2 separate regions of the Homo sapiens genome follow, and region 2 is linked to region 1. The links come from fine-mapping of genetic effects on gene expression. A gene starts in region 1. The other region holds a variant in brackets. All regions are shown on one strand. Distances are from middle to middle.

Region 1 (15,864 bases):
AAGTGATCCTCCCAGCTTAGCCTCCCCCCCAGTAGCTGGGACTACAAGCATGTGTGCCCCTGCCTGGCCTGTCCTTAAATACTCCCTGTTGCTCAGGTTCAATTCACCTAAAAACAATTTAATTTGGTTTTATGAAGGCCTGAAGAAAGTTGCTCAGTTCTGGAACATTATCAGTTCAAAATATTAAGACTAAGGAAAACAAGGTCACATTTTCCAGTAAGTTTTATTTAATCTTTAAAATTCTTGGGTATGCCCCAGGCTAGTTTTTGACAAGACCTCGCAGGGATCCTTAGATGGGTCAATGACAAGCTGAAGACAAAAATATCACCTACTAACACGAACATTACATTCTAAATAATTTGTGGCTATATATTGGGCAAAATTTAGATTTTTTTTCAACTGAGATGTATAGATTTTATCAATACATCAACAGATGTATTGATATGTGAAATATACATCAGGTTTCCCAGATCTTTTTCAGAGCAAACTTTATGTTTCAAGTTCTTACAGTTAAGTTAAATTTCATGACTAATTTTAGACAACGTCTTTTTGGAAGACAGAAGTAAAGCACTGAAGTTCAGGAGTTAGCAGAGGTGAATGAGGTTAAAAAAAAAACAAGCTTTGAAATAATTTTTGCCAAACTCATGACATATGCTTTCAAAACTTTGCAAACAATTTTAAATAGAATTGGAAAAAATCCTAAGAAAACCCTTCATTTCCCTTTTCTAGCCTTAAATACACCCCTTTAAACCATAAATTGACTCAAACTTTAGGGCAAATGTCTAGCAAAACTCTCAGTTCTTTCTGAGACTGCACATTGTAAATATCATAATTTCTTATCATGCAAAGTACCAATGAGATCAGCATGTGTCCAACTCAAGTTCATATATTTAAAAGCTAAAAGGCCACTACAGTTATAAGATTACAATTTCCTGAAGTAGTACAAGGGATATTTTAATAATCTGCTTGTTTTCAGAGGAACATTGTTTTCCAGAGGAAAATATTTTGATTTTTTTTTTCATCTAACTAATGTTTTTCTAAGAGAGGTTTAAAACCCAGGGGCTTTTAAGTGAGAATCATTTCTCAGCCTACCGGCATCAACATTTGACTAATAATGTTAATTTCTTGTCCCATAAGAAATATCTTTCACTGCTTATTGTCCAACTAAGAGACCTCTTTCGTTACTGTTTGGGGCATAAGAGAGCTCAATTTGTGAGAAGTGCTACAGATGACTAGATCTTACAGAAAAAAACTCTGGGAGTTTAAGAAATTAGGCGTAAAGAAGAGGAAGATATATTTAAGATAGATAAAATGGAAATGTTGGTTTGAGCATAAATATTTTAAGGAATTTTACAAACATGTACATATGAATTGAGAACACGGTGCTATATTGGGGAGAGAATACAAGGATGACAACTGGAAATCCCATCCAGAATGCTTGAAGTACAAGGGACTTCACAGATCACTTAATCCAGGCTCAGAGACCAAACGAGTTTCCCAATTAAATGGCATAACACTATAAAAGGCTTAGCATGGTGCCTGGCATATAACAGACACTCAGTTAATACTGGTATCCCCCTTTCCCTATGACCAACCAAGTCACACTCCAGTAAGTCTTACAATAACCACCACCATGAACATCATCTAAATCTTCCAACAGCGAGTTCTCCAGTCTTCCAGGGATACCAGGTCTTTTAATCAGCTTATTTCAAGGAAAATTCTATTACTATTATCTCTATACCGATGTTACATTGCTGCGGTGAGCATTAAATGATATCAATTAATGCTAGCATGAAGTTTCCAATTCTGCCTTCTCTTAAATACATCCTTCCCATTTTATGGCAGTAGGAGTGTGTGTGTGTCCTTGTGTGCATGCACACATGTGCGAAGGGGTGAACAGCCATTGAAGCAAATATCAGAAATACTTAGGATCTAGGTTTTTTACAACTCTCTCCCTCCCCCAAGATTTTGATATGCCTCCTGGGTACCAATCCCATTCCATTGAGAATTTCCTAGTAATGAGTCACTATAAATGTTAGGAATGAATGTATTCCAGACATGTATTGGAATGGGGGAAAAGATAACGGGGTAGTGACTGCCCCCCATTCAGGGACATGTCGACAAAACCAGTCTCACTACAAATTCACAACTCAATGACCAGGCTTGTTGTGATGCTCAATTCAATGTAAGGCCCTGGAAGTAGAATATCACATCTTGTATTTCCTTCTATGTGTCTGCACAGTAACAAAAATGGGATATTAGTAGATGCTTAAGTGGTCACCATTAATCATCCTCAAGAATTTATTTCAATATTTAAAAATTCAGCTTGCATGTAACTCTCCAGGAACATTTATCGTGGTCCTGAACTTGCTTTTCAAATAAGTCAAAAGAGAAATACTTGTAAATCAGTTTCTCAATAAAATGTTGTGAGCATTTTCATCTAAAAAGAAACATATATTTAAACTCTAGTTATCAAGGTTCATGAATGGCCTAAAATTGTGGGTAAAATTTTGTGTAGGCACACTCTCCCCACCCCCACCAGAGAGCAGTAACATAGCTTCCATCATATTATGAAATAAATCCCCCCAAAGCTGTATAATCACTGCTCTGTACTGCTTCTCCCCCTGGCTTTGAAGCTAAAACTCTCAGGTTACTCAGCTTGAGTTCTAAAAGCAGATTTAAAAATAAAATGACAGGATAGTAGTTAGTGGGGTGGGGGGGGGAGGGGGGCTACAGGTAGCTGTTGAGATGGTATCAGGGGACTTCTGGGGCACCGATAATACTGACTTGATTTGGGTGCTGGTTAGTAAGGAGTATTCACTTTGTGAAAATTCATCAAGCTGAACACATATGATTTCTGTACCTGTCTGCAGGTATATATTTCAATAAAAAGTTTTTGAAAAAAATAACAAAGATGGGTCACTTATACACAGCATATATCATTACAGAATTTAATGAAGTCCTTAAAAATGATGCACTAGGAGAGGCCCATTGGTAAAGAACTGCAGCCTCCAGACAACAGCCAGTGAGGAACTGAGGCCTGACCAGGCCCGCTGTGTGTAAACCTAAAGAAAATTCTCTATCCTCAAGTCAAGCCCTGAGATTGACTGCAGCCCGGAGCCCCAGCTGAGAGTTTGACTGCAAATGAGACCCTGAACCAAAACCATCTAGTTAAGCCACTCCCAGATTCCTAACCCTGAGAAAATGTGAGATAATGTTAGGTGTTTTAAAAAGATGCAGTTTCAAAACACTATCTTCCTTGCACATACTGAAGTGGGCAAAGTAGCCTCAGTAGTTGTACCTACAGAGAGACATTAGCTTATTGGTTTAAACTGGCAACTTTCCCACCTCGAAAGGCTGTGGTACAATATTGCTTTCAAAACCCAACCAAGAAAAAAGAAAATACAGCTGGTGGTTATGAACATCAATTTCTGGGTCAAATGGAAGCTAATTTCTCTGTAAGATATAGAACAGGGATCTTCCTGATACTTCTTTCTATACCTTCATCTAAATTAGAGATTCTTCCATCACTGTACTGTATTTTGTTTTTTCTGTGTTAAGTGTTTGAATGATCCCACACGTATATATACATCCCTTAATTTTTCTCAAGGCTTCTCAGGAAATATACTAAAGTCAGAGTAATCAAGTAAATATATAGATATATATGTTTTAAATACAGACATTTCCAGTGTGGTGTTGAATAGGAGTAAAATAATGAAATAAAATACACACATATTATTTGTATAAACCCACGAAAGAGGTATAATCAGGGTGGGAGTGGGTGATGGGATATAGTTATTGCTTATCACCCAACACAGATGTAGCATGTTTTGAAATCAATGTATTCTTTCTTGTATCTACGTGTGTGCTCCTGAAGCCTGCCAAAAGAGCATCAGAATTGGATATTTCAGCAGTCTGGCTCCAGTGTCTTTCTCATTCTGAATCCTCTGAAGTGCCCAGCACAGAAAGGGCCTTGCACACACTAAGCATTCTGGTATTAGTCGAACTGGAAAAAAGTTAGAAAAGTTATGTTTTTTCCATTTAAAATTCTCAAAAGTTGTACGGAACTCCCTTTTCAAAATGGACTACCCATAGCACTTATCATTTCCTTGCATATTGTTAAAAGCTGAAAAAACAACCATCACTTTTGCTATAATCAGGCCGACTTTTTGCACCCTGCTAAAATTTAACCTGACAAGTTGTAATGATTCTTCACAACTCCCTGGAGTTACACTGGTAGTCAATATTTAATTACTGTGCCTGGAATTTAAAACAAACTATGACTACTTTGCAAATAGTACATTCTCCTAGTACAGTCATAATGCAAAGCCCAGTAAATAATAAGACCCAACACAACAACGTAGTAATTCCAGCAAAATCCTGGAATCAGTCTTCATTTCCATTATTTATGGTAAAACTAATATAATTCATATTAAATAGCATATTCGATATATAAATCATATTCTTTCCTTCCTTTTCCTCTCGAGCTCCTGAACACCAGCTAGCACTATTAAAACTAACATCTGATCCTTCTTAATCTTCTTCATCACCACTGTTCACTGAGCGTTGTCTTCATCTCTTTGCGATAACTTACCAGCTTTAGATATGTTAAAAAAAACATGAAAGGAAGGGCAACTAAACATAATTAAACACACATAAGTAAGTTTGATTTTTTTCTCCCACGCAAAGCTTTGTAACCACCCTGCCTTCAGGGTGAAAGTTAGATAAGGTTATCTAAGACCAAGAGTAAGAAACCCATCACATCGAGGAGCTGCTTAAGGGCACACTTCTACAGACACTTGCCTGTAACATCAACAGAGCTAAAGGGCAATCCAAATATTATAATTTTCCCATTACTAAAGTTTTATAGCACTTAAAATCGTCCATAAAATACATATCCTTAGAAGAGAGATATCCAAGACATCAGCCTGAGAGAACCCGAGAATCATATGACACTCAGCCTCAATTATGAAAAAACTGCTCACCCTGGTGGTTCAGAAAAGCACTAGATAACATAATGACTCGACTATTTAGTTCAACAAATGCAACTCTCCAATAATCAGTCATGAATCTGTAGCAGACACCTTTATAAACTTCACGTTTGATTAGTGTTATAAGAAAAATATCCCCGCCACCCTCCCCTCAATGCATTGCAGACTGTCTTTAATGAATCCTTTATTTACTCATTATACCTAGGGAAGCGTGTATCTTTTTCATAAGAAGGTTTTCTGCCACAATAAAGTACCACCTTAACATCTGTGAGTGCCCAATACTATTAACACTTAGTGGTCTGACAAAGAAAAGCAGTATGTCCCATTCTCTCTAAAGGGAAAAAAATTCACTCACAAACTTACCCCGTTGATATGAAGACCACTAAGCACTAATTTAGACCAACAGATTGCAGCTCTTAAAAGTAAATAAAGGGTACCAATAAAACACTGATCAACATGCTCCCCTTTGTTTTGAAAAGTTAATAAATTCTTACTTCCGTAGATTTTTGAGTGGTGAGTGGGAGAACAACATCTTACTAAAAATAAGACAGACCTTCGTTGGAGCGACAAATGCTGTGAAGATTGCTTTGATGCATCCTGACTTTCACAGGAATGACAACCTTTATGCTTCGAAAATGTGGGAGATCACATTAAGAGATATTTCTTTACGGGAAACAGCAAATAGCACGATGTATATTCATAAAAGTACTGACTCCCTCTGCATTCCGAAGCATGGTTCACAAAGGCTATCTATTCAAAGCCTGTTCTAGAATGCTCATAGACATCCCCCCAACCCCCAGTAAGGAAGCGCACTGGACCCAAACTCCAAAGACTTTGGGACACTTAGACTTACCTTAACCAAATCTCATTATCATTCTTGTGCTTTGGTTTTTGTTCCTTTAAATGACAGAAGTAATTCCTGCCTGAGTCTTGTAAGATCCAAGAATTTTTAAAAATCACATAAAATATTTCATGCTTCTTAGAAATGACTGCTATAAAACGCAAGGTGCTATACTATTATTATTATCATTATTATCATCTCCTTGTATCAACTTTTACTGTCACTTCTGAATTAAGCCAAGGTACTGGCTTTGAAACACAAATCCCGTGGTTTTCCACCTGTGATTACGTTTCTTGCTATAATTCTGTCCTGACAACTTGTCCCGCACACTCCGAAGATCTACTTTACTGATCTCTGGCCTGAAAATTAAGTCTTTTATTTAGTCCCTTCTCTCCAAAGAAAGGGGCAGAAGTCACACCACTCCAGATTCTTGTAGACGTATTAAGAATGAGATCATTCTTCTTACTTGAGGAATGATGCCACAGAATATAAAGGCGACACTTCTTGCCCTCTAATCTTTCCTTGCCACAACACAAAACCTGTGCACTTGGTTACCTAGAAAATTGGAAGGTTCCCCACAATGGATGTGCATCAATAACTGTCATAAAAATATCAGATCTCTGGCACAGACAGGAAAAACTTTATCTAGTTTGCAAGAAATTAAACCCTGCAGTCCTCCATCTGCTACTGGGTTTGGTATGGGCTGTCCCTTTCTAGGGCCTGTGCCTGTCTTTGAGGAGAGTGGCCTGGCCCCACAGCACGCTAGGAGCAGCTCTTGAGCCGGATCAAGACCCTCCCGAGCAACGTCTGCACCCAACCCTGCATCTCTCATTTCAGACACACCCCCCTCCACCCCGTGTTTCATAGGAGGTGTGGGCGCTCAACTCCTTCACTGTGGCTAGGGGGACGCGAGGGGAGGCGGGCCGAGGCCTGAGCACCCATTTTGGAAGACCGGGGAGCTCGGCCCTCCGGGCTGTACGATTTGGAGTGTCGGAGGGAAGGGCGCATCCGTGGGAGGGGGAAGGAGGCCGGGGTTGCTGGGGGGTCTCTCGTATTCCGGGGCGTGAGAGGAAGGCGGCGGGAAAGACTCCGGAGAGCGAGGTTTATCAGCGCGAGGTTTCCTTTTTGTTATCTGCTGAGGGATGGCGGGCGTCATGGGGGCGTCCCCCTCAGTAAAGTCAGCAAGGGGGTCCCCCTCGCTTCACCGGGGGGCGGGCGGGGGGGCCCGAGGACTTGACGGAGGCCTCCCCCGGGGACGAAGACAGTGACTGACGAACGTTGTGGGCTGCGCGCGCCGGGATGCCCGTTCCTGTCCCTGCAGCCCCGCGCGCGAGGTGTGGGACCGGGTGGGAGGGGACGGAGAAGGCCCCCGGCCCGGGAGGCGGGAAAGGCCCCGGGGCTCCGGGACGGGCGGCGGCTCCAGAGCCCCGAGTGGCGGCGGCGCGGGCCTGCCGAGTCCCGAGCCGGCTGGCGCCCTGTGGGCCGTGTGCACCCCCGACTCCACTCGCCGCTCTTCGTGGTCGCCCCCTCCCCCCCGCGGCTCCTCTCACCTGCACATGATCCGCCATTTTGCTCCATTCATGCTCCTCTCCGGCCCCCCCTCCCCCCCAGCGCGCACCTCGGCCGGAGCCGCTGCCGCCGCCGCCGCCGACGCCGTCGCCGCTGCGCCTGCGCGCTGGGGACTCGTCGCGCTGCGCTCGTGGCGTAGCGCCGCTCAGCTGCGCAGGCCCCGGCGGCCCGGGCCGTGGTTGGAGAATGCGCAGCACCGCTGGGACGGCGTAAAGGCGCGGGCAACGTCAGCGGCCCGGAGACGCCGGGTGGGAGGAAGGAGCGGGCCGGGGGAGCGCGAAGGAGGGGCAGCTGGGGGAACAAAGCTTTGTTTACATGGTTTTTAAAGGGGCCGCGCTCGCTCCGGCAGGCGGGCGCTGGAGTGGGAGTTGGCGCTGCCTTCTGCTCGTTTGCGTGGTGAGGGCTCCTGGATGGGGGCCGAGGTCTGTCGCCGCCCCGGGACCCCTGCACCCAGTGGCTTCCTCTCTTCCCAACCGTCTTCCCCCTTGACTCGCCCCTGGACGTCTCCCACCCCCACCCCCACCCCACCCTGCAGCTACGGGGACCCCCCACACCCCACCTAGGCTGCCTGCGAGATTCCTTACTTTCCAATGCCCTCTACTCAACGGGGGCCGATTCTGTGCTTGTGTCTGTCTAGCTTTCTGGACCAGGGCCATCGCTCTCTGGTCTGGATTTCACCAGCAACCCCAGTGGTTGATCTCGTGTTTTTCATTTCTGTCCTTTCGTCCTTGATAAACATTCATGGAAATAACCACCGAATGGTGGTGATGATCAAAACATACGAAGGCACAGTTCTGGCTTCCCAAAGACATTGTCCTCGTTGCCAATACTCTAGACTGCCTCCCGAGAGGGTCAGATGCTGGAAGAGGCAGCGGGGCTGGTGGTTAGGACCCCTAGGCTCGGTCTTGTGGAGGTATGAGTGGGAAAGCCATCTCTCTGGGTCAGATAAGGTCAGCCCCTGCATGCTGAGGCCAATTCCAGTCTTCCTCACTAGGAATTATCTGTTAGATAATGCCGGTTCCTGTTTTCCATTGGATTCCACTGTGGCTTCCTTTTAAGGCCCCCAGGTTAGATCATAGCTGGATTCTGAGAGCACTGATTGTTTGAAGTTTGTATTTACAGGGGACTACCATCATATGCAAATGATGGTGGTAGTGAATTACACACCCTTGGTGGATGTAGTGGACCGGTGCTCAGCATTCATTTCGACTTCCGTCCTCCTAGTAGGTCTTCCTGGTTTGCAGAGGTAGGGCACCTGGAAACTACATTACCCAAACTTCCTTGCAGCTAGGGTTCTGTATGCAAATTAGGCTCTGCCAATTAGGCTGACTCAGAGAAGATTTAAGAGGCAGAAGATTTAAGTGGCAGAGCTTTTGACTGTTAACTTCTAGCGAGCATAGACCTTTTCAGATGTTGGGTTTTTGTTTTTCCCCAAAACCTCCCAGCGTCCAATCATTAGCTCCGAGCGTATAAAGAGGCGGGGTGATGGGGTCAGTGGCTTTCTGAACCTGGCATCGGGCAATGAAATATTCTCAGAGTCACAATTGCAATGGAAATTCTTTGGATTCCCTACTGGACTGAATAGAGGTAACAGTTTCACAGTGGGCCAGGCCCAAATTTCTGTCCACCCTCCCTTCCCCCACCCCCGCACCCCAACCTCCCCGTGTTTCTCCCTGTGTCTTCCCTTCCTCAGTAAATGGTACCACCATTCATCCAGTTGCTCCTAATAAACACTCAGGAGTTGGTTCTTCAAGTCTTATCAGTCCCCAACATGCAAGTCACCTGCAAGTCCTGTTCAATCTATATCTAATATATACCCAATATGACCACTTCTCCATCCATCTCCACTGTTAACACCTTGGTCCAAGCCACCATTACCTTTCTCCTGTGCTCTGGTAATAGATTCCTAATTAGTTTCCCTGCTTCCTGTCTTGCCCCTTGATAACCCATTTTCCATATAGCTGGACGCTGCAGAACATTATTTTATTTATTTGTTATTTTTTGAGACAGAGTCTTGCTCTGTTGCCGAGGCTGGAGTGCAATGGCGCCATCTCTGCTCACTGCAACCTCCGCCTCCCTGGTTCAAGCGATTCTCTTGCCTTAGCCTCCCAAGTAGCTGAGATTACATGCGCCCACCACCATACCTGGCTAATTTTTGGATTTTTAGTAGAGACAGGGTTTCACCACGTTGGCCAAGCTGGTCTGGAACTGCTGACCTCAGGTTATCCACTCGCCTCTGCCTCCCAAAGTGCTGGGATTACAGGTGTGAGCCACTGCGCCTGGCCAGAACATTCCTTTAAAATCATAATTCAGATAATTTACACTCCTACTTAAAATCCTTAAGTGGCCTCATGTTGCATTTAGAATTCGAATCTTTGCTGTGGCTCAAGAGGTCGTATGAGCTGACCTCACTCTACCATGCCCCCTCTGGCTCAATGCTCTGTGGTCATTCTGGCCTTGCAGTTCTGCAAAGCCAGGATCTCCTGCCTCAGGGCCTTTGCACTTGCAGTAACTTCTGCCTGGATTGGTTTCCCTTCAGATCGTGAAATGGCTGGCTCACTCTCCTCATGGACTTTTCAGCTCACTTGTCACCTCTCAGAGAGCCTTTTCTCACCACCCTCTTGAAAGTTGTCCCCTGTGCCTATCACTATCACAGCATTGATCACTGTCCAAAACTACATATTATTACTCTTTCATTATCAGTCCCTCCAACTAAAAGCAGACATAGTATAAACAAGGATTCTGTCTATGTTGTATCCCTAGTACCTCTGCACAGAGTAGATGCTCAGTAAATAATTGTTGAGGCGGGGCATGGTGGCTCACACCTTTAATCCCAGCACTTTGGGAGGCTGAGGGGGGTGGATCACCTGAGGTCAGGAGTTTGAGAGCAGCCTGGCCAACATGGTGAAACCCCGTCTATACTAAAAATACAAAAAATTAGCCAGGCATGGTGGTGTGCGCCTGTAATCCCAGCTACTCAGGAGGCTGAGGCAGGAGAATGGCTGGAACCCAGGAGACGGAGGTTGCAGTGAGCCGAGATCGTGCCACTGCATTACAGCCTGGACAACAGAGTAAGACTCCATCTCAAAAAATAAATAAAAATAAATTTAAAAAACTGTTGAATGTATTAACTTCTTTATGTCTCATTCTAGGGTGCATGTGGGTTTCATATGAAGACATAAAGCATTCTAAATATTATGTCACTGTTAGGTAACATGTTATGTTATGTTATGTTATGTTATGTTATGTTATGTTATGTTATGTTATGTTATAGGCCCTTCCTCTCAGCGGGTTTCTAGAACTGGGTTCTCTCTTTCCTTAGTACTGAGAAAAGTGATAGACTTAATGGAGAAAGGGTGGGGGGCTACAAATGAAGCTCAAGAGACTGGCATTGTCCCCCTCCCACACCCCACAGTCAGGGACCACTGGGGGTGGAAGGGGCAGGGATGGGGTCCTTCAGAATACACGCTCACTAATTCTTTCGCTCAGTCCTTCACCCGTCTCAGGCCCACATCAGTTCTCTGCCTATCCTATACGTACTTACCTGTTGTGTGCCCAGAACTACCCCTTAGCTAGCTTCCCTACCTGCACATCATTTGAGGGTTACCTAATCCCCAAGCCGGCCCAAGGAGTCAGACACAGTCTCCTCTCCTCCTTCCTTTGTTGCCCCAAAGACAAGGTCCCAGCCCTCTTATGTTAGGATTGGGTTGCTAATCACTGCAGCAGAATAGTAATGAAAATTTCTTGGAGCTGTGGTTCCTGACTCCTGCTGAGAGAAACTGTTGTAAGGGACAGGATCCCAGTGGCTTAGAATGAGCCACAGGTGGGGTTTGGAGTGCCTTTTCCTTTCCCGTAAAAACAAAGACAAGCCAAGAGGCACCCTCAACTCCTTTACAGTGCTTTTTCTACACATCATTGGTGCCTGTGGACCCTAAGGGCTTCTCATTCTGTGCGCTTCTGCTGTGTCTTGGAGCAATGTCTCTGGGCTCCTGTTTACAGGGTTTCCCCATGGCTAGGCAGAAGGTACTGGGGTTAGTGCTTCTACATCAGGGTCGCCACAAATCCTGCTAGGGACAGTTGAAGGGGCCTAGAAGGACTGCAAGGGTGTTGCTCTTGGTATATACTCTGCTGCCCTATCTTCTGCAGTCAACGGCTACCGGAGAACTCCTCCAGCTTCCATAAGCAAGGGATGACAAGGGAGTGTCTGGATTGCCTGGGGTTCAGGCCTCCGGGTTTAAACAACTTTCAAGTAATCTGGTAAACTTGGGTGCCCCCCTGTGGTTCTGAGTGGAATGTGTCCATTTTGCCTTCAGGGAAGGCGATCAGGTTAGCAGGGGACATCCTCTGTCACCTTGCTACTCAGTGTGCTTTGACCCACCCACCACCGGCAGCATCTCAGGGCTCATTCCAGACCTACTTTATTGGAGTCTACTTTGAACAAGATCTACATGTTACAGTTTGGAAGGCACTGCTCTGGCAGCCCCTAAGATGGCCATAAAGCCCTCCTCTTCTCACTCCCTGCACCAAAGACCATGCAGCTCCCAGGCAGAGTTGACTCTCCTTAGGGACTAAAGAGGAAGATTAGGTCACATCCCATTTCCATACCCCTAACCACTTCCCAAGGTGTGCTTTTCCCAAAACAGTATGCTTGGTTCTCCCTTGAGCTTTGGATCAACCTCTTCAAACCCAGGCATCACGGCTGAGGGCAGTGAGTTTGAAGTGACTCATCCTTGTCCTCACAGAGCTCATGACATTCATTTTTTTCAAGCTTATTTGGTCCAGTCCATGGCATGTACAGCAGAAGGCCTAAGCTGTGCACGGTGCTGCTCGCTCCTTGCCACGGTAACTGAACCCCTGTTGTAGAGGAAATGGGCCTGTTTATATAAGCACCTGTTATGGGATTAACCCCAAGAGTGTTGGTCTGAGTCTCAGTTTTTTCCAACCCTTCTGCACTGTGCCTCCATACAGATTGCTTCTCTAAACCATCTGGCTTTAAGTTAAACTTCTCTGAGCAGCTTGGATTTCCCCACAGCAATGGATCTTTTTGCATGGATCTGGATTCCATTTAGGGGCCCTGCAAAATGTTGAATTAAAGATCAGGAGCCCTGGTCTCTACTTCTTCCTCTGCCCCCAACTACCTCTGTGACCTCAGGCAAGTTGCAAATAAGTGTGTTCATACCTGCCCTGCCTTTGTCAAAGGATGGCGTGGCTGATGAAAAGTGTGTGCCTAGAAGCTTTGCGAGCTACGAAGCACTTTCGGTAACTCTGAACCATTTTCAAAATGTATATGAAAGTGATTGCTATTGAAACTTAAGATAATTTGCAGATGAAACCTAAGCATCTTTCTAATGCTCAGGAATGCTTGCAAGAAGGCAAAAATCCAACAGTTGAGATGTACTTGGGGAGTCAGTCCCTTCTCCAGAGGGGATGATCATCTTTCTAGAATCTTTACAGGGTTGGTGTGAGTGTGTGTTGTTGGCAGACAGGGAGTGCTCGCATGTAGTTAAACGGTTGCCTCTCTCTCTCTCTCTCTCTCTGTGTGTGTGTGTTTGTGAAACTGGTATCTGGTTAGGCCCACATGAGCTGTCTTATGTGTCTCTCTGTGCAGTGCCGTGTGTGTCATTCAGCTGTTAAGCGTTGAGAGACCTGGGTTCTGGTTTGGTGACCTTGAATAAATCCCTCAGACTTTCCAAGCCTGTTTCCTTATTTGTAACTTAGTGGTTTGTCCCTTCCAACTTGCGTACAGCTTGGAGGGGGGGGCCTTCACTACTGATTTCACTGTCTAGTTTGGTTTCTGGGTCTCTGTTCCAGTGGGCCAGCCACTCTTTGCTGGCGCCTCCCTGTGCCAACTTCTGTACCTGAATTGTTGCTCACTGAAGAGCTGGCATTTAGCTTTTTGGAAATTGTCTCTAACTCACTGGAAATGCAGGAAGCTTGAGTATAAAACTCACTCAGAAAAAAAAAAAAAAAAGAAAAAAAAGAACACACACTCAGAAGAAACCGCAGGGCCTATCAGCCTGTCGTCATCGAGCAGACTAGAATAGTATAGAAAACCCTAGGCAGAGAGGAAATGAACTTCAGAGAAGGGAAACACACGGCTAAGAAGAGAGAGGCAAGGGCAGGAGTGAAGGAGAGAGCTGAAGCCTGGGGCTCCGAGATGGTCAGAGGATGGGAGACGGGGCAGTGAAACAAGGCTTCTTGTATCTTCAGCAGCAGCAGACGTTTGGAAAGGTAGGAGTGAGGCTGGGCTGGGGTTGGGCAGGGGGCCTGGGAGGCTGCTAGAATTCCTGGGTTGGAGAGGGAGTTTCATATTCAAAACCCTTATAGGTCTGACTGTGCACCCACCAAGTTAGACCCAGAGCTCAACTTTGGGAGGGCTCTTTTCCTACCCGACGCTGTCTCCTGAACCAGGCCCCAACCAGGTCCCAAACTGTGCTCCTTACTGAGGGCTGTTTGCCCTGGGTGGGGGTGGGGGATGTGCTGCTTTCATCTCTTGCCTCTTTTGCTCTCTTGCTCTATGTTGACTTCTTTTCACCGGACACCTTGGAAGGGAATGGAAGGGGCAGCTGGAGGGACAGTTTAGGATGACAATAGAGGTTCCTTCCCAACCCCAGTGGGGTGCATGTGGCTGGTGTTCAGCTTGGGCTGGGGCCTCTGGGGGCCTGGACCCCAGCCGGCTGTCCATCCTCTTTCCCCTTCCCTGGCCTCCTTGAACCAGGAAGTCCTCGTCCCCTAACCAACACTGGGGGGCACACCTGTCTCTCTCTCATGGCCCAACCTATCAAGGAATGAGGCAGCAAGGTTCAGGAGGGTGGAGAGAAGTTCTCCTTCAGGATTTCGCACAGAAGGAGAATGAGGTCTCCAGCCCGGGTCACACGCCGCCCTCCTCACTCCCTCCTCTGGGCCTCGGCCACTGCCCCGCTTTCCTCCCCAGACTGGAGTCCACTGCGGTGGGCCTGTTTGGCCTTCTTGCAGCCTGCTTTGGGCTCATCCCGGCGTTGCTTTCTGCCTGGGCAGTCTCTGCTCTTGCTCGTGGGCCTCCTTCTCGGGGCTGGCGGCTGATCTCCGATTTTCTAATTCCTGCAGTCACTGTCCTCTTCTCTGCCTCCCTGGGTCTCATGTGATCTTCACCTCTCTCTCCCCATCTCCAAGTGGCTGCCCCAGTCCCCCTCCCACGGTTCCTCTTCTCCCCTTGGCTCACGATCTCCCCGTCTCTGGGTGGCTCCCTCCCGCCCCCGCCTCCCACGCCTCTGGCACAGAAATGGCGCCGCTTCGGCGCCTCACTGTATGGAGGGTCGGACTGCGCCTTGGCCCGGCTGGAGCTGCAGGAGGGCCCGGAGAAGCCTCGTCGGTGTGAGGCTGCCCGGAAGGTCATCCGCCTCAGTGACTGCCTGCGGGTGGCCGAGGCCGGCGGAGAGGCCAGCAGCCCCCGGGACACCAGTGCCTTCTTCCTGGAGACCAAGGAGCGCCTGTACCTCCTGGCGGCCCCTGCAGCGGAGCGCGGCGACTGGGTGCAGGCCATCTGCCTCCTGGCCTTCCCCGTGAGTCGCGCGGGGTGCGGAAAGGGCAAGGGGGCGTGCAGGCCGAGGGTGTTAGATACTTCCTGTGGGCAAGTGTTACAGGTGTCAAGGTCAGGGTGATGGGGTGCTTCCTCCATGTGGGGGGACCCGAACCCAGTGTGCAGACAGAGCCAGCAGGTTGAGGTGGCCTGAAAGAAGGCCTGGGCCAGAGGGGGGCCTGGGGATCGGGGAAGGTGATGAGACGGGGCGCCTCCTCCCTAGGGGCAGAGGAAGGAGCTCTCGGGGCCAGAGGGAAAGCAGAGCCGGCCCTGCATGGAGGAAAATGAATTGTACAGCAGCGCAGTCACAGGTGAGGGGGCGGGGGCTGCCCTGCTCTCCCCTGGGGGCTCTCCCCAGGGTGAGGTGGAGAGGAGGTGTGGGCTGGCTAGCTGCTGGCCCCGAGTCTTCCTGCCTTGTGGTTATCCCCAGCCTGGGCCAGCCCCGTTATCAGCCTCTCCTTCTCGCTTCCGGGTGCAGCCCAACGTAGGGAGCCTACCCTGCCTTGAGTCTCTCCCTTGGTTCACCTCATCTTACCTAGGGCCTGCTGGTGGGAGAGGGGAAGGCTGGGGGCCCAGGTGAGGGTGCTGCTTTTTTCTATTTTTGAGACGGAGTTTTGCTCTTGTCGCTCAGGCTGGAGTGCAATGGCACAATCTCGGCTCACTGCAACCGCCGCTTCCCGGGTTCAAGCGATTCTCCTGCCTCAGCCTCCTGAGCAGCTGGGATTACAGGCGTCGGCCACCACGCCTGGCTAATTTTTTGTATTTTTAGTAGAGTCGGGGTTTCACCATGTTGGCCAGGCTGGTCTCAAACTCCTGACATCAGGTGATCCACCTGCCTCAGCCTCCCAAAGTGTTGGGATTACAGGCATGAGCCACTGCGCCTGGCCCCAGGTGTTGCTTTTGAG
Region 2 (15,864 bases), 82 kb before region 1:
ATAAAGTTTTTAACTTGTGACACATGCCCTGGACTGCAAAGTGTTAAAAGGGTAGATACCTAGTTTCCTAATGAAATAACGGCTTGCATTCTTCTAAACTTAAAAGTCGTTTTGTTTCCATCATCTTAAACTGGCACTCTCAACCATTTTCCAGTTGAATTAATTTGGCCTTGAGAGGATGCTTTACCTTCATTACACAGTATAGTCAGCTGGGGAGAGGTTTGGGTTTTCTGACTGAGACCACGGCTCTTACATTCTCCCACTCTTTCACTAGCTGTAGGGAGTGACTGTTAGACTCTTTATTGGCCCTTCTGAGCTTTACATAAGTTTTTATCCACTGTCCATTAGTTTGTATCCTGTGAGTCTGTCTTCCAGACCTCGAATCCAGAGGCTCTGACTTGCTAACTCTGTGATTCAATAGCAAGGGTAAGGAGATTCCCCACTTGCCATTCTTTTAGGCCATATGCATGCTGCCGTATGCTTAAGTGCGCTGAGTTGTCTTCATGGCTATCAAGTAGAATTAAAATAATTGTGCATGGTGCTTTTGTAAGTACTGTTTACTATGTTTTAGAGTCAGTTTGTATTACTGAGTGATCATGAAACAGAAGAATGGAGGCAAATTTGCCTTGCAAGTGACTTTTTCTGCTTTTGAGTTTCCTTTTCCATTCCTGACCATCAAAAAGATACCTGGCCCATAATAGATGCTGAATAAGTATTTGATGAACAGATGACAAAGGGTAGCAGTCAGGCTGTCCTGAGAACCAGAAGGCTTTTCTGAGGAAGGGGAATGATTTTCCAAACTTGATGTCATCCTCTACCTTGACAGTCTCACGTCCCATTGTCTGGCAGCTGATTCCTTTAGTTGATCTGCTCTTCCTGAAAAGCACCCAAGTGGCAGGCGACCAGTGAGTTCAGGGTGAAGACACCCAAGATAAATGTAATGGACCCAGAGGACAAGCTACAGAGGCAAGAATCTTTTTACACATGACCTAGTATCTAATTATGGCTGATGAACACATTTTCATCCTTTCAAATACTTAAAAAATATTTAAAGAACCACCAGGACTTTTAAGTAGTTATAATCACTTACATTTTTCAAGGCCTAATCAACAAACTTGTGGCTTTTACAGGGTCCCTATAACTATATTTCCTTTGGCATTCGAGAGTTTTGGCAGCATTATATGTCAATTTAGGCTTGTAGGTCTAGCCAGAAATCTTGGGCTAGGGTTGGCCTGGACAGGGTTGGCTGGTGGCAAATATGATATAGGGAGTTTTTCTGGCTTTCTAGATTTAATTCATGTTACCCCACAAGCATGGATATTTTGGAAAGTGGTCTGTTGATGTACTTAGTTGAAATTTCAAAAGGTACTAAAACATTTTTTCCAGTGGGGAGTTGGGGGGAGGGGAAAAAGTCCCTTAATAAAGCCAATGTTTTAGAGAATGAAAAACTTATTTCTTATGTTGTCACTTGTCATTAGAAAATGGACACTTCTGCCCAAAGTCATTACTTCTTAAAATTTAAAAACTTAAAATTGCAATCTTGGGCCAAATCCCTTCTTCCTTTGTCTGATTTACACATTAGTGGGAATAGATAACCCTTACTTGGGCTGAGCCAACAAAACACATACAAACACAATTTAATAATCTGTAGTAAAGAACGTTTTCAATGTAAGGCACAGTTTGTGTCAGGAAACACTATCTAAAGACACTTGACTTGATGAACACAGTGCCTGGGGAATAAGCCTAGAAATTCCCAAATACACTTTTGTTTTGACTGAATAAAATCTCATGATTTCTGGGGAAACCAAAATCTAAAGATAACCAACTATTACATTTACTAGGTTGAATCATATGAAATTGCTAACTGACCATTTTTGACCAAAAGGTGATTTGGTGCCCCCTCTTTGAATTGTCAGCAAAGGAGGGAACAGCTTCACTGTTTAAAAAGTCTGATGAAGTTGTGGAAGATTTTAACCATGGCAGAGGAGGGAACAGCTTCACTGTTTAAGTCTGATGAAGCTGTGGAAGATTTTAATCATGGCTCCTTGTGATTGGACTACACTCAGGGCTGTAATGAGGAGACCACCATCTTTGGTGAGTTTCTTGCCCAGGGAAGGGAGAGGTCTGGGGTTTTGCTGATTAATCAGCATCTCAAAGCAGTTGGGGGAAAGGGGACTTCTCTTTAAGTATCCATGAGAAAGTTATTTTTGTGTCACCTAACTATAGAATCAGAATTCCAGGTCTCTGGGGCATGTGTCAGAAGTATATGCATATTAATGAAAACTCACCATTTAATATGTTAGGCTTAGAGATGGAATTTAGCTAAGATTAATCAACTCCATTTGCCTTGTAGCCATCAGAATTTTTTTTGCCTTTGAAATAAGTTAGGACTGAGGCAGCTATAGCAGTTCCCAGAAGGCTGAAACTGCAAAGGTAGTGGTACATCTACATAATGCAGACAAGAATGGCACCCTGGCACCCAAGAGTCATGGGATGGAAATCTGCATTAAGGTACACATACCTGTCTGTATCTTAATACTTTTCTGTGTTTCTGGCAATCAAATTTCCTCATACTCAGGTACTCTGAATACACAGTGCAGGCCTTAGAAGTAGTCTCTGTTAACAAGTGTTCCTCTTTTGATAAATCTGGCCTGTGAGGTCTGCAACGTATTCCAGGGGGATAACATTTGCCCCTGAACTTGTCATAGTCTAATGAATGAAACTCAGCCCACATCAGAGAAGCTGATGTCAGAACATTAAAACACTGGGCTTTCTTCAATTGCTACTTGTCTGCCAGTAGCCATGTTATTATCTGAAAGCTAACAGAGAGGTAGAATGGCTTGTGCTTTATAGCTATGGACAATAGCATGTGACTGGTTTTGTTGACAGAGATATATCAATCATATTATACTTTTGAAAGAAACTGAGTCAGACTCTGTGCAATGAGAAACAAGTCAATTTGATCAGGTGAAGGGGCCCCTGTCATTCACGGGCTTTTAAAGAATGTTTCACACAGCTTCATGTGTTTTGAGTGAGACATGTCCTTGGACGCACACTGGACATGATTGCTGAAGCCAGGTCAGTAGAAACCATTGAAGTTTATTGGCGGTCACAATGCTTACACTGTATGCAGCAAACACCCTTACAAGTCTATCCGCAACCTGATCACGCAAGAAAGGATTCATCACACAGTCGCCAGAGGAGAAGGAAAAAAAATTAACAGGCTTGTTTCTGGGGGTAGAGGAAAGAAATAAAAATAAAACCTAATTGATGAGTGTCCCGTGGGCAAGAGCTGAACTAGAGATGTGTACAACTAGCAGCAACAATTGTGGAAAAAGTACAAGGCAAATAGCTGTCTCCATTAATTTTCCTCTGTAGGTTATTATTTTTTTTAATATTCAAAACATTTATTATGGTTTTCATTTTATAAAAATGTATATTTTTTAAGGGATGGGAGAATGTTAAATACTTCATGCTAGGTAGACCTTGTTATTAAGAACCCTTCCACTGTAGTAACTTCCTCCAGTTCATACATTCATGAGTGCAGGGTACATATATAAATATCCACACGCATACATCCACACACACTGCCTCGAGGGCTGGGGAAGACTAAAATTTATTGGCCACACACAGCAGGGCCTCTGGTGGACTCACCCACATTGCTCCCAGGAGAGCAGTGGGCTCACTTCCTTCTCTCTGGTCTCTGCCTTCACACAGACCAAGAACCCTACAACACGTCGTTAAATCCAACTTTTAAAAGCAAGAGGCATCTGTCTGAGGATGAGGGTAAGCAAAGTAGGAAAGAGGGTGGAGATAAGAACACCAAACACTTTTAGCTGGAGTTATTTATCACTGCAAGGGGCTAGGGACCCAGGGCAGAATCTACACGGTCCAAGGGGAGGGACGGTGTTCTGGCATGGCTTAGAGTTCCTAATAACAAGGGTTAATACAGTAACAGGAATTGATCATTTCTGGGTGAGGACAGGGCAATACGAAAAAATATACATTTGGAATTTTAGCTTTTTTTTTGCCTCTCTACTGTGTCACTAAATATATCTCTGCACTCTCACACATCCTTGTCCAGTAAAGCTTCAGGCCACCAGAATACACATTTTCTTCACTCGCATACACAACCCCTCACATCAGCATTGGTGCACTAGACTCTGTAAAAATTTTTCAGTCACACTTTTTGTTTTTAAACTTGAGTCAATATAAACCTTGTTCAAAATGTTATGAAAAAATGTACATGTTTATACAAGGCAGGTTGTGGCAGGACACTAGGGGTTCTCCCCACTTGGGTGGCCCCAGGAGGAGAGGCTGGAGTCTCAGTTTGTATCTCTTATCTCCTCCCACCACCCTTCCCACCCAGTCCCCCAGGAACCAGCAGCGCCCTGCCCCCTAGTGAGTGTACTCACACCCCTATTCCCTGGGGAAGCAGCTAGTTGACCTTTGCCATTTTCCCCACACCCCTGGAGAAAAGAGCCAGGATCAGCCAGGCCCTCTCCCTTGCAATTGTTCGCCCCTCTGGGCCAAACCAAAGGGACGCTGCTCTGTACAGGTAGAGTCCAAGGAGGTGTCAGCTCATCATGTCATTGCTATTCACGCCATAAGTGGAATTCTTCATTGAGTCGTTGACTTCTCGACGGAATGCTGACAGGTTCTGGGTGAACCTGCAGAGAGGATGCATGTGGGTTGGGGGAGGAGAGTGGGGGGGAAAGGTATTTGCCTTTTTTTTTTTTTTTTTTAAAGCATGGGAAGTAGAATGTATGAATTGATGGGTTCTGTTTCAAAGATCAGTTAATTTCAGTCTTAAGACTCTAAGAGAAAAGTTGGCTTAGAGATCTGGTCAAATCTGGGGCCCTGAGGGCTACCTTGGGCTCATGGCAGCACAAAAGAAATCTCACTGACAGAAGTAGGAAGTTGCCCTCACACGTGAGGGCAGTAAGCCAATGAAGCCATCTCATTTCTTAATGCAGCAAGACCAGGTGGTGCAGTGCTATGCTGTCCAATAGGGCGGCTGCTAACCACATATGGCTACCGTGCCCCTGAATTATGGCCAGTGTGACTGAGAACATGAATCCAAATTAAATACAATTTAACATTCAGCTCCCCAACTGCATCTTAATTTTAAATTAAAATGCCTTGTTTTAAATTAATTAAAATTAAATAAAATTTAAAAGTTAATTGCAAAGCCCAGATACTCAATGCAGTTACTGGAAAGTCCCTAGGTGTGTTTGAAACAATCTGGGTATTACAGGAATCTACTTTGTCAACTGTAAATTTATGAAATCTAAATACAGATCAAGTATTTCTGATGAAAACGTATGAACTGAGATATGCTGTTAAATGTAAAGTACACAGGATTTTGGAAATGTAGTACAAAAAGAATGTGAAAACCCACAATTTTAAAATACTGATTACACACTGATACAATATTTTAGATACAATGGGTTAAATAAAATATATTATTAAAATGAATTTTGCCTGTTTAACATGGCTCACTTTTCTATTGCATTGCATTGCTTTAGATGGCCTCCAAACACAGATGTCAAAGACTTTAAAGCAACTGCCTGTTTCGTTGATTTGAAAAATAGCAATTGTCTGAGATTTCTAGGCAGGACGCTTTATACTCACCTGTCTCTGTTTTTCGTAAGAAGATTTCGCTCGATGCCTTCCATCAGGTTCTCAAAACACAGGTGCATGGCCTGCTGCTTCTCCGGTGGCTGGCTGTTCACAATACTGTTTCTTAGGTCAGAAAAATACTGTGGGGCAAGGAGTGGAACAGAAGGTTAGAGAAGCAGGGGAAGGCAGATTAGCCCTCCGTCATCTGCAGGGTTGAAGAATGTTCTTCTCTAAGGAGGAATGGAATGTCTACTAAAATTGGACCCTTAAAAAAGAAATTCAGGCAAGCACTTGTGGGATAATATGGCTTCATCCTACTAAGAATATCAAGAATTTTTAAATTGTAAAGCACTTTAAAAGGGTCATCTTATCCAGACCTTTCTTTTACCAGAATCTCAAGACTTGTTTATAGCAGAGCTAGAACTAGAACTTAGGTCTTAGGTCCTCTGATACCCAGGTACATTATTTCCTTGAAAGGTTTCTCTTACTGCCTAGGGGAAACACTCCTTTATCCTGTGTCTGTGAGCTACCACACATGCTGACTTCTAACAGTTAAATGATTATGTGATACTGAAAGCACAAATGGGACTTGCTCAGTAAATGACCCATTTTCCCTGTTTCACCACCGTGGGGTGTTTCTATACACATTTCTCCCAGGGCTTGGTGATACCAAGTGCGTGGTTGCCACTGCTTCTGGGTTGGCACCAGGGAGCTGGCTCTCTCACCTTTTCATTAAGCAATATCAAGCCAAGTAGTGGTCGGGACATAGACCACTGGTTCCTACAGTCTTCAAAGATGATGATGTTCAGCACCGTGGACAGCATCTGAAAATGGAATGGAGAATTTCAGGCAGTGACCTAATGTATTGCTACCCAAGATAAAACGACAGATTCCAAATACAGGAGTATATTAGGCTGAAGGCCTTTTCTGTATAGGGTAAATCAGACAAATAGTTTGTGAAGCTTCATCTGAGTCTTCTATTTCAAGGTTACCTTTTCTTCTAAGATATTCATTTCCTTTCTTGTTCTTAAAATTGGTTTGAACTTCACTTACCAATGGATCTTTCCAGGTCACCCTGAGTTGTGGGGAATGGGATGGGGTCACGTAAACAAAATTACAGTAAGCAAAACCACCTTGCATGATCCCTTCCAGGTACTCGGAGTTGACAGCTTTATGACATCTTGTGAATGTAATGGAGTCCTGAATTATTTCACTGCTTCTTTAGAGAACGGTGTGGACAAAGGTAAGACTGGCTAAAATCTCAATAATTACTGATCCCATTTCCTTATCTATTTTCATCTAGCATGTATTTCTGTAAGTTACTTCAAGGCACATACAAATAAAATAAGGGCAAGCATATGGTTTGATCTCTCTGTGGCCAGTTATTTCCTTCTGTCTTGCATTCTTCTTCCTGTTTTGTAAACAGGAACACAAGCCTTTAGAAAGCTGGATGCTGCTAACTCCTGCTCTATTTATAGCAGTGGGTGAGCAAAGTAATTTTCACAGAAAGAGGATAGTGATCATGAGACAGGTCCAGGGCATAGGGATCACTGTGACACTCAGAAGAATAATCCAGAACCTGAGCGTTTTCTACATCCAGTGATTACTTGGCAAACTCAAAATCCACTGCAACTTTAAGACACGGACTTCATCTCAGCAGCAGGAACCTGATGAGATGTCATGTTAATCGTGTGTGGGCTCCCCTGTCTTGCAGAGGTCCTTCCTCTGTCGGACACCCCATCACTGCCTCCTAAGCCTCCACTTTCTTACCTGCTGGATCATCTCTGGATGCTGCTGCATGATGTGCAGAAAGCGGTCGCTCTCCTGGTTCAGGGGTGTGGTCCTCTTCTTGGTGCTACGTGACAGCTGCTTGAAGAGGTATGTCACAATGTGGTCCAGGCAGGAGCAGCAGCCTGTGCATACCATGGTGTCTGCAAGAAAGAAAGGCAGGGGTAGGACAGAGCTGCTGATGGTGGCCTGGACAAATATGGACTATCTTTGGGTGAGATCCATTAGGGTACCGTGGCCAATTCAACCAAGGCGGTTGCTCAAGATGACTCCTGTTAACCTCTTAACCTCATTGTACAGTAGGGCTCAATTTCTAAGTTTGAAAGTGAGTATGTGGTAATAAAGAATACTGAAATTATCGGCTCAATGTGTTGTGGATGTACGTACATCTTCTGCCTCACACAAAATAACAAATAGTTTGATTCAGCAAGTGCTTCTTTTGTGCCAGATGTTGTGCTAAGTACTTTATAGGTGTTATCTCTAATTTATCCTCT[C/T]AAGAACTCAGGAATTAGGTTTTCTGTTTTACAAATGAGGAAACCAGAATTAGGAGAGGTTATGTATCGGCCTAAGGATCAACTGCTAGTAATTGCAGGAGCTGTGATTAGAATCCAAGAAGCCTGGGGTATGAGCCTATGCTCTGAGTTACCAGTGGGATGTAATTAAACCCAGAATGACGTAGCCCCTGAATGTTTATGGTTTGTTAGAACACGGTATGCTGTATTATCTGTTTATCTCCAAAGCATCTCTGGGGGGAGCTGCAGACTCATCTATGCGTCTTTACAAAGGGAACAGTACAGCACAACCTGTGGACAGAACTCTGATGAGGTAAGGCCAAAGGACAAAGGGGCTGAACCCTTAAAAGAGTAAACAAGTCTCTGATTCCTACGGGACTGATAGTTTATGCAAACGTCCCTCTACTTGCTTTTTCTTTCTTTTTTTTTTTTTTGATACGGAGTCTCGTTCTGTCGCCCGGGCTGGAGTGCAGAAGTGGCACGATCTCGGCTCACCACAGCTTCTACTTCCCGGGTTCAAGTGATTCTTCTGCCTCAGCCTCCAGAGTAGCTGGGACTACAGGCACACACCACCACGCCGAGCTAATTTTTGTACAGAGACAGGGTTTTGCCATATTGGCCAGGCTGGTCTCGAGCTCCTGACCTTGTGATCTGCCCGCCTCAGCCTCCCAAAGTGCTGGGATGAGCCACCACGCCCGGCCAGGTCCCTGTATTTTCAATAAGACATAAAAAAGTCTTCCAAAGCAAGGGCTGATACCTTGATTGGACTGTACTAGATACGGCTATGCACCCTGATAGACTGATAGAAGTAAATGTGTATCAAAGTCGCACAGAGGCATGGATAATTCACCACAGTTGACAATCCAAAAGTGTATTTGCAACATATCATCACTATTTGGCAGTTGACTTAATCCTCCTACTTATGTTTTGCTCAGCCTAATATAAAAATGTGTTTTATTCTCTGAACACATATACCTACTAAGATTGTTGGGCCAGGCACGGTGGCTCATGCCTGTAATCCCAGTATTTTGGGAGGCCAAGCCAGGCGGATCATGAGGTCAGGAGATTGAGACTATCCTGGCTAACACAGTGAAACTCCGTCTCTACTAAAAATACAAAAAAATTAGCCAGGCATGGTGGCGGGCGCCTATAGTCCCAGCTACTTGGGAGGCTGAGGCAGAAGAATGGCATGAACCCGGGAGGCAGAGGTTGCAGTGAGCTGAGATCGCGCCACTGCACTCCAGCCTGGGCGACAGAGCGACTCCGTCTCAAAAAAAAAAAAAAAAAAATTGTTGGAAGGTAGCCTAGAAACAAAATGGTTGACAGAAACCATATGGACTAGGATGAAAAAACTTATGGAGCTAGCTGCATGAAACCTTTCCCCAGCTTCCACGGCCCTCAGGACAGAATTCAAACAGCCTAATACGGCTTACAGGCGGGCCCCCTTCATGATCTCCAGATTTGCTCCTGCTTATCTCTAAAGCTTCATTTCATTCCTAACTCCTCTGGACTAGTGTGCCAGCCATCTGGATTTCCTGGTTCTTTCTTGCCTACAGGTGCAAGTGCTTGCTGTCTCTGCTGCTAGGAACCCTCCCTGGCTAACCAGGGTAACATCTGTCCAGCTTTTAGGTTTATGCTTTGATGCCAAGTCTTCCAGCCAGTCTTCCTTGATCCTGACTTCCTCACAACCAAGAGTCTAGGTATTCTTGAGGGCTTGTGTAGCACTTTGTACTCACCCCTATTGTAATGTTTAAGTGGTAAGTATGGTAAACAGGCAGTTGTTTGTTCATGTGTCTGTTCTACCCACCAGATAAGCCCCTTAAGGACAGGGACTATATGCTGTTAATTACCGTATCCTCAGTGCTTCCACAGGGCCTTGTACTTAGGAAGGGAATCAGTGAGTGTGTGCTGGATAAGCATGTGCTGTGCATTATATACTCTATTGTTATGGCCAAACCCCCAAGGCAGTGGTGATCTTTTTGGACACTGGGGCAAGATTCTCTCTTTCTGTTTAGTTAAGTGGTAAAAAACAAACCCACCAACTCACCCACCCACCTCAGGTGCTTACCAAGTGCAGTAAGTCCTTCAGAAATGGAAGAGAGAATATACATGATGACGTGAGGTTCCAGGCTTGCAATAAAGTTCATATGGTCCTGGGTCAGGACTTCCAGTAGTGAATAATAAGACTGGCTGAGCTTGGGGTAATCCTGTGGGAGAGGAAGAGGAAGAAAATCAGCTTAGGCACTATGCACTCCAGCATGCAGGGAGACGATCTTAAATAGCTTAGCTCCTTTTAGGTGGGAAAACAGAAGACTTAGTTAGAGCAAAAGGAGCTAGCTTACATAGTTTCTCAAGAGCAGTGTTCAATCTTGGTCTCAGGTGAAAAAGGCTGAATGTGATGAGGAACAAGATTGTGGCAATGCAGCGTAAGGCTTACCAAGAGATCACTGTGAGGAATAGAGAGGAGCAGCTTGATGAAGGTCTGCAGAGCATTGTCCAGGGCATCGTCTCCATAGAGACGAAAGACTCCGAAATTGACGTAACTCCCACTGAGAGCAGCCTTCAGCATGGAGAAGCAGATGGAGATGCCCTTGAGCTTCAGAGCATAGACCTGATCCTTTGGGACCTCTCCTAGTGTCAGGATGCGATTGCCTGAGTAGACATGTCATATATGTTTATTCAACCACATTAGAAGCGCTCGTTTAGATCAGCCTTCCTACTCCAAAGGCATACAAATTCCAGTAGGCCCCTGGTGACAGGTGGCACTCTAATGCACATGTATTAGCATACAATACGAATGCTGTCCTGGCTCCTGCCAGGACTGGCCAGAGACCCACATGCTGCTTACAGTGTGGTGACTGAGCTGGAATTAACTTCTAGAGGCATGATTATCTGAAGCACTTACCATACATTGTTATCATCTTGCTGGTTTCTCGGAAGAGTAAGATGCCATTGGGGGAAGAGACATCAAACTGGAGTCGCTGGGACCTGAGCAGAGAGCACAGGAGGAGAAAAAGTCAGAGGTGTTTTCTTGGAAGACTGGGGTACTTGAGGCTCTCATCTGAGTACCTTGGGTGATCCTGCATTTACATTAAGGTAAGCAATTGCCTATCCTAATATGAGAATAACCAAGTTATAGATATTTAACCATGAAGTAGCTTCTATATTGAAGACCAACATGCTAGATTCAGATTCTGCTGCTCAAATTAAAAACATTTATAAGAAAAAAAAAGCAGCAGTAGATAAAATTACTATTTGAAAATTCTCAATTTTATTTGATTAAAGTATACTTTCTTTTTTTTGAGATGGAGTCTTACTCTGTCGCCCAGGCTAGAGTGCGGTGGCGCAATTTCGGCTCACTGCAACCTCTGCCTCTCGGGTTCACACCATTCTCCTGCTTCAGCCTCCCAAGTAGCTGGGACTACAGGTGCCCGCCACCACGCCCAGCTAATTTTTTGTATTTTTAGTGGAGATGGGATTTCACCATGTTAGCCAGGATGGTCTCGATCTCCTGACCTCGTGATCCGCCCGCCTCAGCCTCCCAAAGTGCTGGGATTACAGGCGTGAGCCACCGTGCCCGGCCTTGATTAAAGTATACTTTCTACCCGTCGCCTCTTGATACTAATGCAGAGCCCTTCAGCCATTAGTTGGCATGGACCTTTATGGCTTCAGTGGCAACTGAGGGAGAGGGGCCAAAGCATTGTTACCATTTTATATGAAGAAAAGATGCATAGGGACTTGGAATGGTCCAAAAGAAGCCAGACAGAGAAGGCCATTTGTAACCATCTTGGTTTTAAGTTCCTGACTCTTTTGTCTGCTCCACATTTTGATGAGCTTTATTAGATTCAAGTTGGTAAGACCTCAAAAGCCCAGGAGTCCTTCCTCCTTCCTCCCCCCCACCACACTGAATCCATCAACATCTAACTCTAAAATAAACCCCAAATCCACCTTTCCCTTACATTCTCTCTGCTTCTACTCTTACCTGCCTTTAGTCCCATTCTTCACATGGTAGCCTTTAAAAAACTTAAATGAGATCATTTTAATCCTTTGCTGAAAACACTCTAGCGGCTTCCCACAGCAATGAGAATAAATGCCCACTCCTCACTACTGCTGTGCGAAGGCACTAGATGATCTGGCTCTGCTCACTGGTCTGACCTGCTCCCACAGCCTCCCCCCACCAACCAGGCTCCTGCCACAAGTCCCAGCAAGCCTGTCCTATCTCAGGACTCGTGCAGATGTTTTCTGTTTAGAAGACTCCTTATCTTTGCAGGGCTACCAGAATCTTTCTTGTCATTTAGATCCTAGTTAATATTACCTTCTCTGAGAGGTCTTCCCTGACCCTCCTGTCCTTCAATTCCCCTCTATTTTACTGCCTTGTTTTATTTTGTTTCATGGCACTTAATCACTGGAAAGATCTTCCATACTTGTTTTTATTGTGTGTCTTCCCCACCATTTGTAACATCAAAGAGGGTAGAGATTTTGTCTGGCATAGTGGCTAGGAAAGTTTGGCAAAGAGTAAGTGCTCTCAAGTATCTATTTTATAAATGAGTAACTCTTGAATATAAGTCTCCTGGGAGGTTATAGCCTCTTTAAATATTACCCACTCCATAAGGTTGTTTTAAAACTTATTAATTCTGCTAGGCCTGGTGGCTCACGCCTGCAATCCCAACACTCTGGGAGGCTGAAGTGGGCGGATCACCTCAAGTCGGGAGTTCAAGACCAGCATGACCAACACGGAGAAACCCCGTCTCTACTAAAAATAGAAAATTAGCCGGGCGTGGTGGCGCATGTCTGTAATCCCAGCTATGTGGGAGGCTGAGGCAGGAGAATCGCTTGAACCCAGGAGGCGTTAAGTTGCAGTGAGCCAAGACTGCGCCACTGTACTTCAGCCTGGCGACAAGAGAGAAACTCCGGATCAAACATAACTAACTAAATAAATAAATAAAATAAAAATAAAGAAAAAAAACCTTACTAATTCTCTCAGGACCGCCATGAGAGACCAATGCCCATACCTGAAATTCTAGGAAAGCTAAGGTGCTAGACTTTTCTTTTTCACTGTCCTTAAATTGTTTTGAAAATCTTGCTCACTTTTTAAAAGTAAATTTTTATTGATCCTGCCACAACCTCTCTAATAAATACCTTTCTTAAGAAAGGGTATTCTAATATCTATCATATCCTTCTCAATGTCTCTAACCATGAAATGTGATGGACAAGGCACCATTACCAGATGTTAATTTCTTATCTGTGGGCAGGAAATCAGAATCTTGGTTGCCAAATTTACTTCTCCTAAGAGTAGACATCTGGAGATTCTTTTTATTTTACTTTTTTGAGACAGGGTCTTGCTCTGTCACCCAGGCTGGAGTGTAATGGCATAATCTTGGCTCACTGCAACCTCTGCCTCCCAGGCTAAAGCAATCTTCCTACCTCAGCCTCCTGAGTAGCTGGGACTACAGTTGTGTGCCACCATGCCCAGCTAATTTTTTGTAGAGGTGGGTTTCACCATGTTGCCCAGGCTGATCTAGAACTACTGCATTCACGCAATCTGCCCACTTCGGCCTCCCAAGAAGCTAGGATTACAGGCATGAGCCACCATGCCCCACTGGAGACTCTTTTTAAAAGTGACTTATTAGATGGGCGCAGTGGCTCACGCCTGTAATCCCAGCACTTTGGGAGGCCGAGGCACGCGGATCACGAGGTCAGGAGATCGAGACCATCCTGGCTAACATGGTGAAACCCTGTCTCTACTAAAAATACAAAAAATCGGCCGGGTGTGGTGGCGGGTGCCTGTAGTCCCAGCTACTCCGGAGGCTGAGGCAGGGGAATGGCGTGAACCCAGGGGGATGGAGCTTGCAGTGAGCCGAGACTGTGCCACTGCACTCCAGCCTGGGAGACAGCAAGACACCGCCTCAAAAAAAACAAGACAAACAAACCAAAAAAAGTGACTTATTTCCTGCAGTTGACTATGGTTTTGTGTAGTTAGGAATACTATTCTTTCACACAAACAAAAACACAAAAACTTTTCGAATTTTAAAATGCAGTAGTGAATCTTATTATTTCCCACAATCTGCCCAAAGCACTAGATACAGCAAATTCTCTCAGATAACAGGGCAGATGTGCCCTTGCAAGCTCTGCCTCCTGCTTACCTATTATGAACCAATTCAGCCATCAACTTGAGTACAGGTGTAGTACAGGCTGGATCATGGTACCAGAGCTCAATTGCCCGTTGGAGAATTGGCATATAGGATGGATATCTGTAAATGAGAAGCTAAGGAAAGATTTCTGATTCCAGAAAGGTACAGAATTTAAAATAGTTTTTCAGCACTAGCCAAGCAAAAACTTGTCAAACTACAGTTCTTTAAGTTCCTGTCTCTTGCTTGCTAATCTTGGAGTCTTTCTAACCAGAAGATACTAAAGTGATTTTGTGTTCTTTAACCTGTGAAAGGCATCTCATAATACATTTTAGTTTACATAGGGCCTTTCTTCTGAAGAGCATGATGTATTTCATACTGTTATTTGTCCTTTCATCACTTCTATGGTATTATATGGGATCAGCTCATTTCCTTTACATAACTATTAAAGAGGCACCTGGATTTGAAATAATCTTCACAAGGGTATGAAGTCAGTAAAGTTAGACTTCCTAATTTGTAAAAGCTGTTTATTATTATTATTATTATTATTTATTTTTTTTTGAGATGGAGTCTCGCTCTGTCGCCCAGGCTGGAGTGCAGTGGCGCGATCTCGGCTCACTGCAAGCTCCGCCTCCTGGGTTCATGCCATTCTCCTGCCTTAGCCTCCCAAGTATCTGGGACTACAAGCGCCCGCCACCACGCCTGGCTAATTTTTTGTATTTTTTAGTACAGACGGGGTTTCACCGTGTTAGCCAGGATGGTCTCGATCTCCTGACCTCGTGATCCGCCCACCTCGGCCTCCCTAAGTGCTGGGATTACAGGCGTGAGCCACCGTGCCTGGCCTTTTTATTTTTTTCAGCAGACTGAAACATCTCTCTAAATATAGCAAAACCAACAGTTCTACAGTGGTATATGGTTCCACAGGCATTTATATTTGAGATCCAAAAGAGAAACTGGGAGACTACTTCATTCATGTTCTAATCTCAGACAACCTTATGTCTGTCATAAGGTGGCTTCCAGGACACATGCAGGCCTTCTGGCTAACTCTTCATCTTCTCTGCCTCACTACCCTCCCTTCCCCCTACACCGTCTCTGGACCCTATCACCCAATCACACTCCAGTTAAGGCAGGCTGTAGTGTGCTCCTAGTTTGAGTTAGGATACATCCATTCAAAGAGCATCATGAAGCTGGTCTTGGCATTGAAAGCGAAAGCGATCCCTCTCAGGTCTCTTACTAGGCCAACTAGAGTTCGCTGTAGTAGAAGGCAAAAATGTGTTAAAATAGAAGAAAAGACAAAACTGTAACAATCTGATGAGGATTCCACACATGTATCATCAAATTCTTTCTCTCACAGTTCAACATATACTCCTTCTCAAATATTCGGATTCAATATCTTCTATGCTAGAATGGCATATTTTCATTCTAGCAGTGGAAGTTTGTTTTGGAAGTTTGAAGTTTGTTAGCTTTGGAAGTTTGTTATGCCAAGAAAATTAGCTTTGGAAGTTTGTTTTGCCAAGAAAATACGTTCCTGGTTCGTAGCAAAAATAGAGGCTGATAAGGTTTTAAGACATTGAAGTAATACATCACATGTAAAAAGTGAAAAAGCTTTGAGTCCACCCAGGGAGGAAAGGAGGGGAGGGAGGGGGAGAGAGGGTGGGGGGCGGAGAGAGAGACAGAGAGAGAGAGAGAGAGAGAGAGACACGGCAAAGAAACCAACTCAAAAAGCCAGAAAAAAGCAAAAAAGAAAAACAGAAGTCCCAAAGAAGAAGAGGTAGAAGAGCCATATATACCCTAAAGGAAGTCAGATGCAGGCC

Evidence for each region. PIP is the estimated chance that this variant, and not a neighbour inherited with it, causes the effect. A credible set is the group of variants that fine-mapping cannot tell apart.
Region 2: its variant is the best candidate, but not a certain one, in a credible set for the expression of XPO7 in whole blood (INTERVAL, PIP 0.78).

The regions. Positions count from the first base shown.
Region 1 is chr8:21,911,307-21,927,170 of GRCh38, reverse strand. XPO7 (exportin 7) reads right to left here and starts at 7,509. Exons shown (of 28, transcript NM_015024.5): 1 at 7,383-7,509. The coding sequence starts at 7,400. It overlaps DOK2 (docking protein 2), which reads left to right and starts at 13,481. Exons shown (of 5, transcript NM_003974.4): 1 at 13,481-13,632; 2 at 14,661-14,942; 3 at 15,183-15,270. The coding sequence starts at 13,570. RefSeq lists a silencer at 7,153-7,592 and an enhancer at 15,464-15,563.
Region 2 is chr8:21,993,801-22,009,664 of GRCh38, reverse strand. XPO7 (exportin 7) reads right to left here. Exons shown (of 28, transcript NM_015024.5): 20 at 15,214-15,302; 21 at 14,066-14,173; 22 at 10,828-10,910; 23 at 10,360-10,574; 24 at 9,991-10,129; 25 at 7,393-7,553; 26 at 6,348-6,446; 27 at 5,635-5,762; 28 at 3,080-4,670. The coding sequence ends at 4,577. Among named protein-coding and RNA genes, the nearest start is that of NPM2, 22 kb to the left of the region's middle. The variant C/T (reference allele first, on the strand shown) is at 7,905.